3 separate regions of the Homo sapiens genome follow, and regions 1 and 2 are each linked to region 3. Evidence: fine-mapped expression QTL. A gene starts in region 3. Each other region holds a variant in brackets. All regions are shown on one strand. Distances are from middle to middle. Region 1 overlaps PSMF1 (proteasome inhibitor subunit 1). Region 2 has its middle 52 kb from the start of PSMF1. Region 3 holds the start of PSMF1 (proteasome inhibitor subunit 1).

Region 1 (4,245 bases), 20 kb after region 3:
ATGGATGTTTACACCTGTATGTGGAATTATCTTGAATTCAACAGTGACAAAGGCTGTTGTATATAGATGTATTATGTCAACAACTCAAATACCACAAAACTCTGTTGCTGTTACTAACATGACTTTTTTGAAATGGTAAACAGCTGTTAGGAGAATTGCAAACAAAATAGTGATTGAATATTGTTTCTTCAGTTATACCATAGTTACATTCCTGGAAAAATGTGCTTGTTTTAAAGTAGTAGAAAAAAATACTTAGTGTTCATATATAAAATGGCCTTACATTCAGATAATTTATTTAGGCTTTACACCTCCATGAGTATCTAACAAGACATTTGAAAATTGTGTGGGATGCAGGTCATTCTTCATTTCGTGAAACTCTACTATGAATTGTAGAACATCCAGCATCTCTGGTCTCTGCCTGTAAATGCCAAGAACGCCCTCCAACTACTATGACAAGCAAAAATGACCCCAGGGCTTGCACTATGGCACCTGGAGGCTATGCTTCCCTATTTGGGAATCATAGACGTAGAGTATAGAATTGTGAAAGTAAAAATCCTAGCCTTGGAAGAACTGAGAGAATGAGAAAATCACCATGTTGCAACTTCTGCTGAAATAATGTACCTAGTCACAAATTGTCAATGGTTGATAAAACTATTAAGTAAAGGTCGATAGGGGACTTTATATTAGGTGGATCTGGCGAGTAGCATCTGAACCCATTGGTTAATCTTAACGCTAAAAGTGGGATAGCCAGATACTGTTTTCTAATATTATGCAATAGTAAGTTCACAGCAACCTCAATCTAGATCTAACTCCCAGTTTAAAAATATGAAGGACAGAAGAATGAGTCAAACAGGTGCATGAGGATACAACATCCAAAATTGGAATATGGAAAAATTATATAGGATAAATTGACCTTGTTTTTTCAACAAATAAATTAATCGCATGGGGAGAAAAGGGAGAAAAGGAGGCTCTTGTGGAAAGAGTCATACCAACTAAAATGCAGTGTTGGACCTTGTTTGGATCTTGATTCAAACTAATTCAAAAAATTATTTTTCAAACATTTGGGGAAATTTGAGCATTGACCAGGTATTAGATAGCATTATGAATTACTGCCAGTTTTGTTAGGTGAAATAATTCTGCTTATGTTAAAAAAAGTCTTTATCTGTTAGAGATATACATTGAAGTATTTAAAGGTGAATGATATGTCTGGGATTTACTTTAAAATAATTTCAGCCCCCGCCAAAAGAGTAAGGTGTTGGGGAGGGGAAGTATAAGTAAAATAAGAATGGTGGACTATTGATAATTATTGAAGTTAGGCGGGAATACACACAGGAACTCATGATACTATTCTTACTATTTTTTGGTATGTTAAAAAATTTCCTTAATAAGGAGTTTTTATTAATACCAGTTCTTCACATAGTCCTCCAAAAAATAGAAGAGGAGGGAATACTTCCCAGCTTCTTCTGTGAAGCTAGTATTATCCTGATAACCAGTACCAAAGACATGACAAGAAAACTACAAGCCAGTATCCTTTATGAATACAGATATGAAAACCCTTAACAAAGTACTAACAAACCAAATCCAGCAACATATACAAAGGATTATATAACATGACCAAGTGAAATTGATTCCAGGAATGATTGATTTAACATCTGAAAATAAATCAGTGTTAAGATACCATATCAATAGAACAAAGGAGGCCAGGCGCCCGGTGGCTCATGCCTGTAATCCCTGCATTTGGGAGGCTGAGGCACAGGAATCGCTTGAACCCGGGAGGTGGAGGTTGTAGGGAGCTGAGATGGCGCCACTGCACTCCAGCCTGGGCAACAGAGACTGCATCTCAAAAAAAAAAAAAAAAAATACAACAAAGGATAAAAACTACATGTTCATCTCGATAGAAAAATAGCATTTGACAAAGTCTGACACCCTTTCATGACAGGAGCATTCAGTTAGCCTGGGAAATATAGTGAGACCCTGTCTTTACAAAAAAAATTAAAAATTAGCCAGGCTTGATGGCATATACCTATAGTCCCAGCTACTTAGGGTGCTGAGGTGAAAGGGTCACTTCAACCTGGGAGGTCAAGGCTGCAGTGAGCTGTCATCACACCACTGCACTCCAGCCTGGGCAACAAAGTGAGACCCTGTCTCAAAAACAAACAAAAAAAAACAAAACCAAACAAAAGCAAATAAAAAAACAACAAATTCAGCAATAGGAGGGGCCAGGCATGGTGGTTCACCCCTGTAATCCCAGCACTTTGGGAGGCCAAGGCAGGTGGATTATTTGAGGTCGGGAGTTCAAGATCAGCCTGGCCAACATGGTGAAACCCTGTCTCTACTAAAAATATATAAATAATCTGGGCATGGTTGTGCAT[G/T]CCTGTAATCCCAGCTACTCGGTAGGCTGAGGCAGAATCGCTTGAACCTGGGAGGTGGAGGTTGCAGTGAGCCGAGATCACGCCACTGCACTCTAGCCTGGACAACAGAGCGAGACTGTGTCAGAAAACACACATACGAAAAGAACAACAACAAAAAACAACAATAGAAGGGAATTTTCTAAAGCCAATAAAGAGCATCTACAAAAAGCTCACAGCTGACATTCTCCTTAATGGAGAAAGATGGAGTGTTTTCCTCTTAAGATCCGGAACAAGGCAAGCATGTTTGCTTTTGTTTTTGCCACTTTTATATAACATTGTACTTGATATTCTAGCCAGGGCAATCACTCAAGAAAAATAAGGGGTATCCAGATTAGAAAGTAGGAAGTAAAAATACCTCTATTTGTCAATGACGTGATATCTTGTATACAGAAAATCCTAAGGAATCCTCCGAAAAACAGAACTAAGCAAGTTCAGCAATGTGGCAGGATATAAAATTGATATCCTGGCTAACACGGTGAAACCCCGTCTCTACTAAAAATACAAAAAATTAGCTGGGTGTGGTGGCAGGTGCTTGTAGTCCCAGCTACTCAGGAGGCTGAGGCAGGAGAACGGCGTGAACCCGGGAGGCAGAGCTTGCAGTGAGCTGAGATTGCACCACTGCACTCCAGCCTGGGCAACAGAGCGAGACTCCATCTCAAAAAAAAAAAAACGATAAAAATCAGTTGTATTTCTGTACATTAGCAATGAACAATCTAAAAATTAATGAAATTATCCCATTTATAACAACCCCCAAAAGAATATAATACGTAAAAATAAATTTAACAAAAGAAGAATTGTGAAAGATTTGGGAAAGAATTGTGTAAGATTTGTACAGTGAAAACTGTAAAACATTGTTGAAAGAAATTAAAGATTTAAGTAAAGGAAAGACATTCTGTGCTCACGGCTAGGAAGAATTAATATTAGCCATACTCCCCACTTGATCTACCTATTCAGTGCGATCCCAGTGAAAATCCCAGCAGGTTTTGGGTTTTTCCCCCCCAGAAATTGGCAAGCTGATCCTAAAATTCAGGTAGAAATGCAAGGGAACCAGAATGGCTAAAACAATCTCAAAGAAAAACAAAGTTGAAAGACTTCCAGATCCCTATTTCAAAACTTATTACAAAGCTTCAATCATCAGGACCGTGTGGCACTGGCATTAGGATAAACATATAGAGCAAGGAAATAGAATTGAGAGTCTAGAAATTAACCCATACATTCATAGGGAATTGATTTCAGCAAGGTTGCCAAGACAATTTAGTAGAGAAACCATAGTCTTTTCAAATGGTGCTGGGACAATTGGATATCTACATGCAAAAGAATGAAGTTGGGTCCCTTCCTCGATTACCTCTAAATGAATCACACACCTGAGTGTAAGAGCTTGAACTATAAAATTTCTAGACCTAGAAATAAGTCTACCTTGGGTAGTCTTATTCCCTGACCTTCAGTTAGACTGTGGTTTCTTAGACACAATACCTGGGAGGTTAAAAGCACAAGCAGCGAGAAAAAATAGACAAATCAAACTTTGTCAAAATTAAAATATTTTGTGCATAAAAGGATAGTATCAAGAAACTGAAAAGATAACCCAAAGAATGGGAGAGAATATTTGCAAATCAGATATCTGACAAGAAGCTTGTATCCAGAATATATAAAGAGCTCTTACGACTGAACAATACAAAAGAAAACTCAATTTTAAAATGTTCAAAGGATTTGAGTAGATATTTCTCCAAGGAGGATGTACAGATAGTCCATGAGCACAAGAAAAGGTGTGCAACAACATTGGTCATTAGGGAAATGGAAATCCAAACCAAGAAATAGTATTATTTGCAATAGCCAA
Region 2 (4,245 bases), 52 kb before region 3:
TTTGTGAGGGCAGGAACCATGCCTGTTTTGGTCACGGTTGACACCTCAGTGCCCAGAAGAGTGAATGAGACATAGTGGGTATTCAAAACATACTTAGGGAGGGAGAGAAAAGAGGAAGAAAAAGGAGGGAGGAGAAAGGAAGGTCTAGTAATACTCAGAGCCCAGGAATTACACACCAGATACCCCTTGCTTCTACCCAAGAGGTGGTTCAGATTAGAGATTAGATTTCAAGGCTCCAGCTTGCTAGCTCATAACTGCTTCTACTCAAGACGGTCTATTCATGTAGCAAAGTCAAAATGTGAACATGCTTTTAAGTTCCTTGACGACAGGAATTGTGGCTTGTTTACTCTTCTACCTGGCATTTGCACAGAGCCTGGGCCTGAATGAAAGTTCAGTAAATGGTTCATGAATGATTTGAATGGCATTTGCCTGAAGGAAATCTAAGAAAGTCTTGCCTTGGTTTCCCCATTAAATGGGGCAAGCAATTCTTATCTCCCCTTCCAGAGAGCTGCTGCCAACACAGGGAATCCATCCTGGAAGAAAAGATTGGTGGCCACCTGCACCATCAGGTGGAGGGCATCTCTCAGCTGCCCTTGCCACATCTGCAGCCCTAAGCTTCCAGGTGACCCCAGTGGACCAGTCTGCCCAGAGCATATCATTAGTTAGGGGCACTCTGCAGGAGGATGCCTGCCTTTGCTAGTGCATAGCTAATGTCCCAGGGGGCTTCCTCTAATTAAAACCCAAACTGCAATTATAGTTGTGCCAAAGCATGTGCACATGGCGCCACTTAAAAGGGACAGATTGACAAGGCGTTAACAACTCCAGAGGCAGCATTGTCCCAGCACCAGGTGCTACCAATCATCAAAATTAGAACCAAATGAGTCACTGGGGCTCAAGATACAGTATCCAGTGCAGACTAATGGGTGATTCCAAGAAACTTATGAGGATTATTTAAAACACACTAACTATGCTCCTTCTACAGGGCCTTTGCACTTACTAGTCCCTGTACTTCTTCTTGCCTAACTCTATTTGATCTCTCTCAATTATCACCTCTTCTGAGACACCTGCTTTGATCACATGAATCTCTACCCTGCTTTATTTTTCTTCTTAGTGTTTATTATCATCTGATATTATATATTTGTTTTGCGATTGATAGCCCAAAATATGTTTTAATATTGTATAAATGTAAAACATATATAAATACACAAAATTTTATAATTTTCTGCAATACATATGTATCAAGAAGATACAGCATACACACTAAGGAGGGTGTCTTCTTGGGGTTGGGGGTGGTGAGGCAGGGGAATAGAAAGACTGATTCAGAAAGAAGAGAGGAACAATAAAAGAACAAATGAGAATATTTATATATCCTGATGACAATAGTGGGCCATTATTTGAAGAGTATGATAAACTTGAATTTTCCTTCCTATCACTTGGTAAACTTGAATTATTCCTCCCTGAAGTTCTGTACTCTGGGAAAATTTTCTTTTTTTTTTTTTTTTGGAGACAGAGTCTTGCTCTGTCACCAGGCTGGAGTACAGTGGCACGATCTCGGCTCACTGCAACCTCTGCCTCCTGGGTTCAAGTGATTCTCATGCCTCAGCCTCCCAAGTAGCTGGGATTATAGGCACATGCCACCACACCCAGCTAATTTTTGTATTTTTAGTAGAGACAGGGTTTCACCATGTTGGCCAGGATGGTCTCGATCTCCTGACCTCATGATCTGCCCACCTTGGCCTCCCAGAGTGCTGGGATTACAGGTGTGAGCCACCATGCCTGGCCACTCTGGGATAATTTTATTTTGGTTTTTAGAAATAACTTTATTGAATATTTTAGTACCAGTAATCTTGCGATAAATTTCAGCCCTGGTTTGGTTGTTGTTGTTGTTGTTTTTGGTCTAAAGCCATCTTGATTTTGCCTTTATTTTTGAAGAGTATTTTTACTAGATATAGAATTCTAAGTTGTCAATTATGTATATTTTTTCAGCACTTTATAAATGTTATTTCATTGTCTTCTGGCTTTCATCATTTCTGTTGAAAAGTCTACCATCAGTCTTATTGTTGCTCTTCTGTAGGTAATGTCATTTACCTCTGACTACTTTTAAGATTTTTCTCTTTATTTTTGTTTTTCAGCAGTCTTACTATGATGTTCCT[A/G]TGTATAATTTTCTTAGTATTTACCCTGCTTGGGATTGTCAGAGCTTCTTGAGTCTGTGGGTTGATATCTTTTATCAGTTTTGAAAAAATTCTTAGCTCTTATTTCTGCAAATATTGTTAATTTTGTATTCTTATCCTCACCTTCTAGGACTCCAAATAAATGTATATTTTTTTTACTAGGTCCCACATATCTATGACACATTCGTGTATTTTCTATTATTTTTCTATGTATACTTTAGTTTGGACACTTTTCATTTTTTTAAGTGTGCTAATCCTATCTTCCACTGTATCAAATCTCTGTTAATCCCATCTGATGAATTTTTGATTTCAGATATTATATTTTCTCATTCTAGAGGTATCATTTTTTCTTTTTTATAGACGCTAATTTTCTGATGAAATTCTCCATCTTTTCAAATATTTTGTGCATATTTTTCTGTTTTTTAACATATTAATCTTAGCATGTCAAAGTCATTATCATATACCTGTTTCTATTGTCTATTTTATTCTGTTTGTTTTCAGATATGTCCTAGCTTTGGCATAACTAATAATGTTAATAGAATGCCACTTATTATACATAATGTAGAGACTCCAGATGATATATTCTTCTAGAGAAGATTTACCCTCTGCTAGGCACAGAGTGGGGCTTATCATCATAAACCAGTCAGGGATTGTACTGAGTCAAGACTGTAAGGTAACCCCAGGAAGGTCAGTTTCCCTGTGCTTCAGTCAGTCATACACTGAACACCTCTTCTCAGAGGCTTTATGCCAAGGTTTATAGCCTCCTGCACCAGGTATCCCAGAATCCAGCAAGTGTCTTGAGGGATTAATGAGCCCTCAAGTCTGCCAAAGGCTCTGCTGGTTTCTTCCACACTAGTCCAGTGCTGCATAAAACTTGGATTCTCAGCATTCTGCTTTTGCCTAGAATTGGAAAATGGTCTGGGGTAAAGAAGCTATATAATTCAGCTTACTCCCCTGCTGTTCATTCCTTTCCAGAATTTTAGCAAGTAGTATATTTTTTTCCAATCCTATGATATCTGACAATGCTACTATATTTCTCTAGTCAATTTACTCTTCCATTTCCTGGGCAACCATTTCACTTTCTCTTATTTCTTCACATCTTTGACACCTTCTTTCTCTCCTCACTTCTAACTGACGGCTTACAAATGAAAGCAAGTGGAATGACAATAACTTTTTATAAAAACTTCTACACTAGTCCATCAACACGTCTCTCTAATACTTCTCCCTCCCTCTCTTTCTCTCTCTCCCTTTCTCTCTCTCCATGTGTCTGCTGGATCCCATCATTCTCATCTAATCAAGGACTTTGCTCCTATAATCATCCCTCCATGAATCATTTTCCTCTCTCTGCTAAATTATTCCCATAAGTGGACAAATATACCATTAGTCTCCCATCTTCTAAAAAGTATATACCCTCCCTTGTCTCAATATCTCTGTGCAGCTACCCCCACATTTTGTTTCTTCCCATTTGAAGCAAAACTCCTCAAAAATTGTATATATTCACTATCTTCATTTTCTTTCCTTCTATGCCAAACAGGTTTTCCTCCTTCAAAGCTACTCTCATCAGGGTCACCAAATACCTCTGCATTGCCAAATCCAGAGGTCAGTTCACAGACCTCGCCTTACCTGATTGCTCAGAAGCATTTGACACTGTTCTCTTTGCTGGTTCTTCCTCATGTTCTCGACATCTGAGTGTTGGAGACCCCCAAAATCAGTCCTAGGACTCTTTCTTTTCCTTCTATATATTCCTTTTACGTGCTTTCCTTATTCTCTTTGTATATAATTTAATACCTCTACTGGGTAATTTACAAAGAAAACAAACTTATTTCTCACAGTTCTAGAAGCTGGAAAGTCCAAGATCAAGGCAGCAGCATGTTCAGACGTGTGGTGAGGGCTGCCCTCTGCTTCCTAGATGGTGCCTTGATGCTGTTGTCCTCCAGAGGAGAGGAAATCTGTAAATTCACATAGTGGAAGATACGGAATTATGAAAAAGGAACAAACTCCCTCCATCAAGCTCTTTTATCAGTACCTTGATCCATTCTGCCCTCATGGCTTAAACACCTTTCAAAAGGCCCCA
Region 3 (4,245 bases):
GAATCTGGTTGTCTCAAGGAAACTTTAGGAACACAAAATTTGGAGAGGCACAGGGCCAGCTGACAAAGGGAGTGATGGACTATAAAGAGGTAAGAGTGCCCTGACTGGGTTGGGGCTAGGCCAAGAATTCATTCCTTCATTCAGTATTCATTCTGTCTTTCAATAAGTATAGATTGATCCCAGAAGGCACTCAGGTACATATGTGCACAAGGTAGACATGCTCCCTGTTCCTTTGTCACAGTCTAGTGGAAAGACAGTCATTAAATAAGCAAAGAAATAAACACCTAACATAGTTTCAGGTTATGATTAATGCTTTGCAGGAAAAAAAAAAAGCCAGAGAGGGATTAAAGACGGGAGAAGGTTATTTTGGATGGAATGGTCTGGGAAGCCCTCTGTTGAGGATGGTAGGAGTGAGGGATGAAGCCACTTGAAATGAAGAAGCAAGACATGCAGATATCTGGGAAAAGAGCATTCCAGGAAGAGGAACGCAAAGGCCCAAACAGAACACATGAAACAGGGAAACTGGCTGGGAAGCTACTGCAATAGTCTAAGTGTGAGATGCTGGAGGATCAGACCAGAGTGGAAGCAGTGAAGGTGATGGGAAGTGGTCAGATTCATAATATATTTTGAGAGTGGAGTCAACTAGCTTTGCTGTTGGACCAGATGTAGATGTGAGAGAAGAGGGGGAGCCAAGGTTATTGCACGTATAAAGGGGATGAGAGGACAGTTGAAGGAGACTGAATCAGAGAGGTACAGGGCTGGCAGGGCTGGGGCAGGAGATGGCAGACCACATGCAGATTCCTGCAGACCATGGGGAGGACTTTACTTTTCCATTGAGTGTGACGATTTTGAGCCAACGGATGTGATCTGACTTTTCTTTTTTTTTTTTTTTCTTTTTTGAGACAGAAGATCGCTCTGTTGCCCAGGCTGAAGTGCAATGGTGCGATCTTGGCTCACTGCAACCTCCACCTCCACCTCCCGGGTTCGATTGATTCTCATGCCTCAGCCTCCCGAGTACCTGGGACTAAAGGCGTGCGCCACCACACCCAGCTAATTTTTGTATTTTTAGTAGAGACAGGGTTTCACCATGTTGGCCAGGCTGGTCTCAAACTCCTGACCTCAAGTGATCCGCCTGCCTCGGCCTCACAAAGTGCTGGGATTACAGGCATGAGCCGCCACACCTGGCCGATCTGACTTGTTTTCTAACAGAATCTCTCTGGTTGCGGAGTGCAGTACAGACTAGAGAGAGACAGGAATGGAATGGGGCAGTTCTGAGGCTGATGCCAGGCATCCAAGTGAAAGATGACAGGAGCTTGAACCAGGTTAGTGACTGGGATGGGGAAACTAAATTTATTTGGGTAAAAACAATAAGTGGATTTCATGAAACTTGTTGAAGTAACGGGTGGTAAAAATCATAAAGGGGGTAGGCAAATAAATGATTGAAATTTGATAGTGGGTCAGGAGCTTCAGCTCTGCGGGCAGCAGTTGTGTCTCCTTGGAGAAGTGGTTTCAACTCTGAGCCGTTTTGTCATCTGCAAAATGGGGATAATAACGGTCCATACTTCATAGAGTTGTTGAGAGGGTGATGTAAAGGTTTTAGCGCACGATGTAGCACACAATAAACACTTAATAAATGTTATCTTAGAAGCCAGACTGCCAGGTTCCCATAACCATTTCAGCCGTTCACCGGCTGGCTGTTGTCATCTTGGTCAAATTATCCCTCTGCGCCTCAGTTTCCTCATCTGTGCAATGAGGCACATTAATCGTTAATATCAACTGCATAGAGTTGGGTTGTGAAGATTAAATAAATGAATACAAGTAAAGCGTTTAGAATAATGTGGACGGTAGCAAGCACGGCGAACGTGTTAACGATTATTAAGAATGTATTTTAGCCACATTTCCCAGCCCCTTCCCCGGCCTAGCATACCCCATTTTGTGGATGGGAAGTCTGCCTCTCAGCAAGGTGGCCTCTTGGAGGACGCTGTGCCCGCGTCAGGCGATCCTGTCGACTGCCGCCAAGACCCGGCTTCCGGCTTTGAGGGGCCACGCCCCGCTCGCACTCCCTGGCGGAACCTTTCAGTGCTGCGCTCGCGTTGCCAACCCGGCGCGCCTCACGCAGTTGCGCCCGCTGTTGGGACTACTTCCGGCTTCCCCGCCCCGCCCCGTCCCCGGGCGTCTCCATTTTGGTCTCAGGTGTGGACTCGGCAAGAACCAGCGCAAGAGGGAAGCAGAGTTATAGCTACCCCGGCCGCGGAGCCGGCTCACTGCACTACCCCCGCCCCCTTCTTTCCTCCAGACGCCGAAGTCGCGGGCGCTCATGGCGGGCCTGGAGGTACTGTTCGCATCGGCAGCGCCGGCCATCACCTGCAGGCAGGACGCGCTCGTCTGCTTCTTGCATTGGGAAGTGGTGACACACGGTTACTTCGGCTTGGGTGTCGGTGACCAGGTACGCCACGGAGCCGGCCAGGGTGGAGGAGGGAACTGTCTTCTGCCCAAACTCAGAGTACCGGAGGCCTGGTCCAGAGCGCCCGATTTCCCCGCTTCTCCCAGTGCAGGGTCTGGGGCAGATGGCAGCGTTGGTAAAACCTGCGGGTCGGAGGTTGCTCACCTGCCCCATCCCAGCCCAGAGTCCCTCACGGCACAGCTGGCACAACATGATTTGTAAACTCAAGGGCGGACACTCGCTTCAACACAGCCTGGCAGCCTCTCAGGCCAGGACTGTGTGGATCTAGCATTCCATAGAATGGCAAAGAATCTAGACAGGAGTTTAGCTCCCCAGAGCACTTCTCACCCACCTGATCCCGTCTGAACTCCTTACCACCCAGCCTCGGGGTGAGGGGACTGACTCAGTTCCGCCCTCATACCACAGTAGAGCCTCCACCAAACATCTGGATCCAAGCACAGGTACAGGAGTGAGCTTTGACCTACTCAGCCCCAGGCCAGGGCCCTTTTTTCACCCGTTAGCATGGGCCCAGAGAGTTCACACGCCTTTCACCCTTTACTGAAGGGCCCAGCATAGTCCACTCGCTACTGCCATCCCCAACTCAAGCTCTAGGAAGCAATCACCCCCAGAGTCGTACACACATACACCCTGGGTGTGAGGGTCATATAAGATTTTCTCCTCATAGTTGTCCCCATAGGGCCAGCCCCTCTTCTCCCATCCCCAGGCTCCACCTCTTACAGCTAGGGACGTCGTTGTCATCCCCACAGAGTTCTAGGACTGCTGGACCCAACCCACCTCACTAATTCTTTGCTCTGGCATTCTTCTTTCTTTCCTGTCTCTTCCCTGTGACCCTCATCCCCAACATCCACATCATCCTAGACATCTGCTTCCTGGGAGAAGTGGGCCTGCCTCCATGCCTGCCCCTCACTGTCACTGTTCTCTCACTCTCAGAACCAAGACTAGCCATGGGAAACAGACCACCCCACCTATTGCATCTTGCCATGAGATTTCACCCTTCCTCTCCTTTTTGACTGCTTCAGTTCTCAACTCCTCTAATCATTTTTTTTAGCTTCTCAAATAGAGTCTTAATTCTCCCCTCCTGACATAGCTTTAGGGACCTCTCTTCAAACTTGCTTTGTACATTCTGAGCACTTAGACAAGTATCCCCTTTCCCCCACCCCTCACTGCTGTCCCTATTCCTCTCTGTCTCTTAGAACTAAAGACCAAGACCACCATACCCCTCTCACACTTTACCCCCTCCAGCAGGAATCAGAACACAAGAACCGTCAGGGATTTCTGGCTCTTTTTTTCCCCAGACCTCAATTATCTCACTGGGACCCCAGGTACACACTCAGGATCCCCATTCCCACCTCCAAACTCACACATACTTCATCTCTCAAATGGGCTCTAAGACTAGATATGAGGATGGAAAAGAACAGCTAGCCTTTCACACACACATACCTGGAAGCAGGAATCATTTCACCTTCCCAAACACATCTGTCCCTGACCTTTCTCTTTGTGCTGCTCTTCATTCCACATACCTTCCAAATGTCTTCCAGCATTTCAGACCTTGGGACCAGGTAGAGACAGCACCCCCATTTCAGCGTCAGGCCCCTCTTTCAATGCATAGTTCCCCTAACAGAAATCTTGTCTCCCCACTTGTCTTACTCCAGCTTTTTAATCTTAAGCAGCTCTTCACTTGCCCCAGTCATTTTATTTCAACTTTTCCTAGATTCTTCAAAGAAACTGGTATGTGGGATGGTGCAGGGGACAGTGGGGCTGAGAAGAGGAGTAAGATTTGA

What was found. PIP is the estimated chance that this variant, and not a neighbour inherited with it, causes the effect.
Region 1: its variant is the best candidate, but not a certain one, in a credible set for the expression of PSMF1 in skeletal muscle (GTEx, PIP 0.55).
Region 2: its variant is the best candidate, but not a certain one, in a credible set for the expression of PSMF1 in blood mononuclear cells (TOPMed, PIP 0.60).

Annotation. Positions count from the first base shown.
Region 1 is chr20:1,136,677-1,140,921 of GRCh38, forward strand. The region is part of intron 4 of PSMF1 (proteasome inhibitor subunit 1); the gene reads left to right. Among named protein-coding and RNA genes, the nearest start is that of PSMF1, 20 kb to the left of the region's middle. The variant G/T (reference allele first, on the strand shown) is at 2,373.
Region 2 is chr20:1,064,169-1,068,413 of GRCh38, forward strand. No RefSeq gene overlaps it. Among named protein-coding and RNA genes, the nearest start is that of PSMF1, 52 kb to the right of the region's middle. The variant A/G (reference allele first, on the strand shown) is at 2,154.
Region 3 is chr20:1,116,457-1,120,701 of GRCh38, forward strand. It overlaps PSMF1 (proteasome inhibitor subunit 1), which reads left to right and starts at 2,146. Exons shown (of 7, transcript NM_006814.5): 1 at 2,146-2,446. The coding sequence starts at 2,318. It overlaps LOC105372493 (a long non-coding RNA gene), which reads right to left and starts at 1,992. Exons shown (of 2, transcript NR_136535.1): 1 at 1,928-1,992; 2 at 1,396-1,532. RefSeq lists enhancers at 1,897-2,539, 1,939-1,988, 1,999-2,048, 2,059-2,248, 2,289-2,418.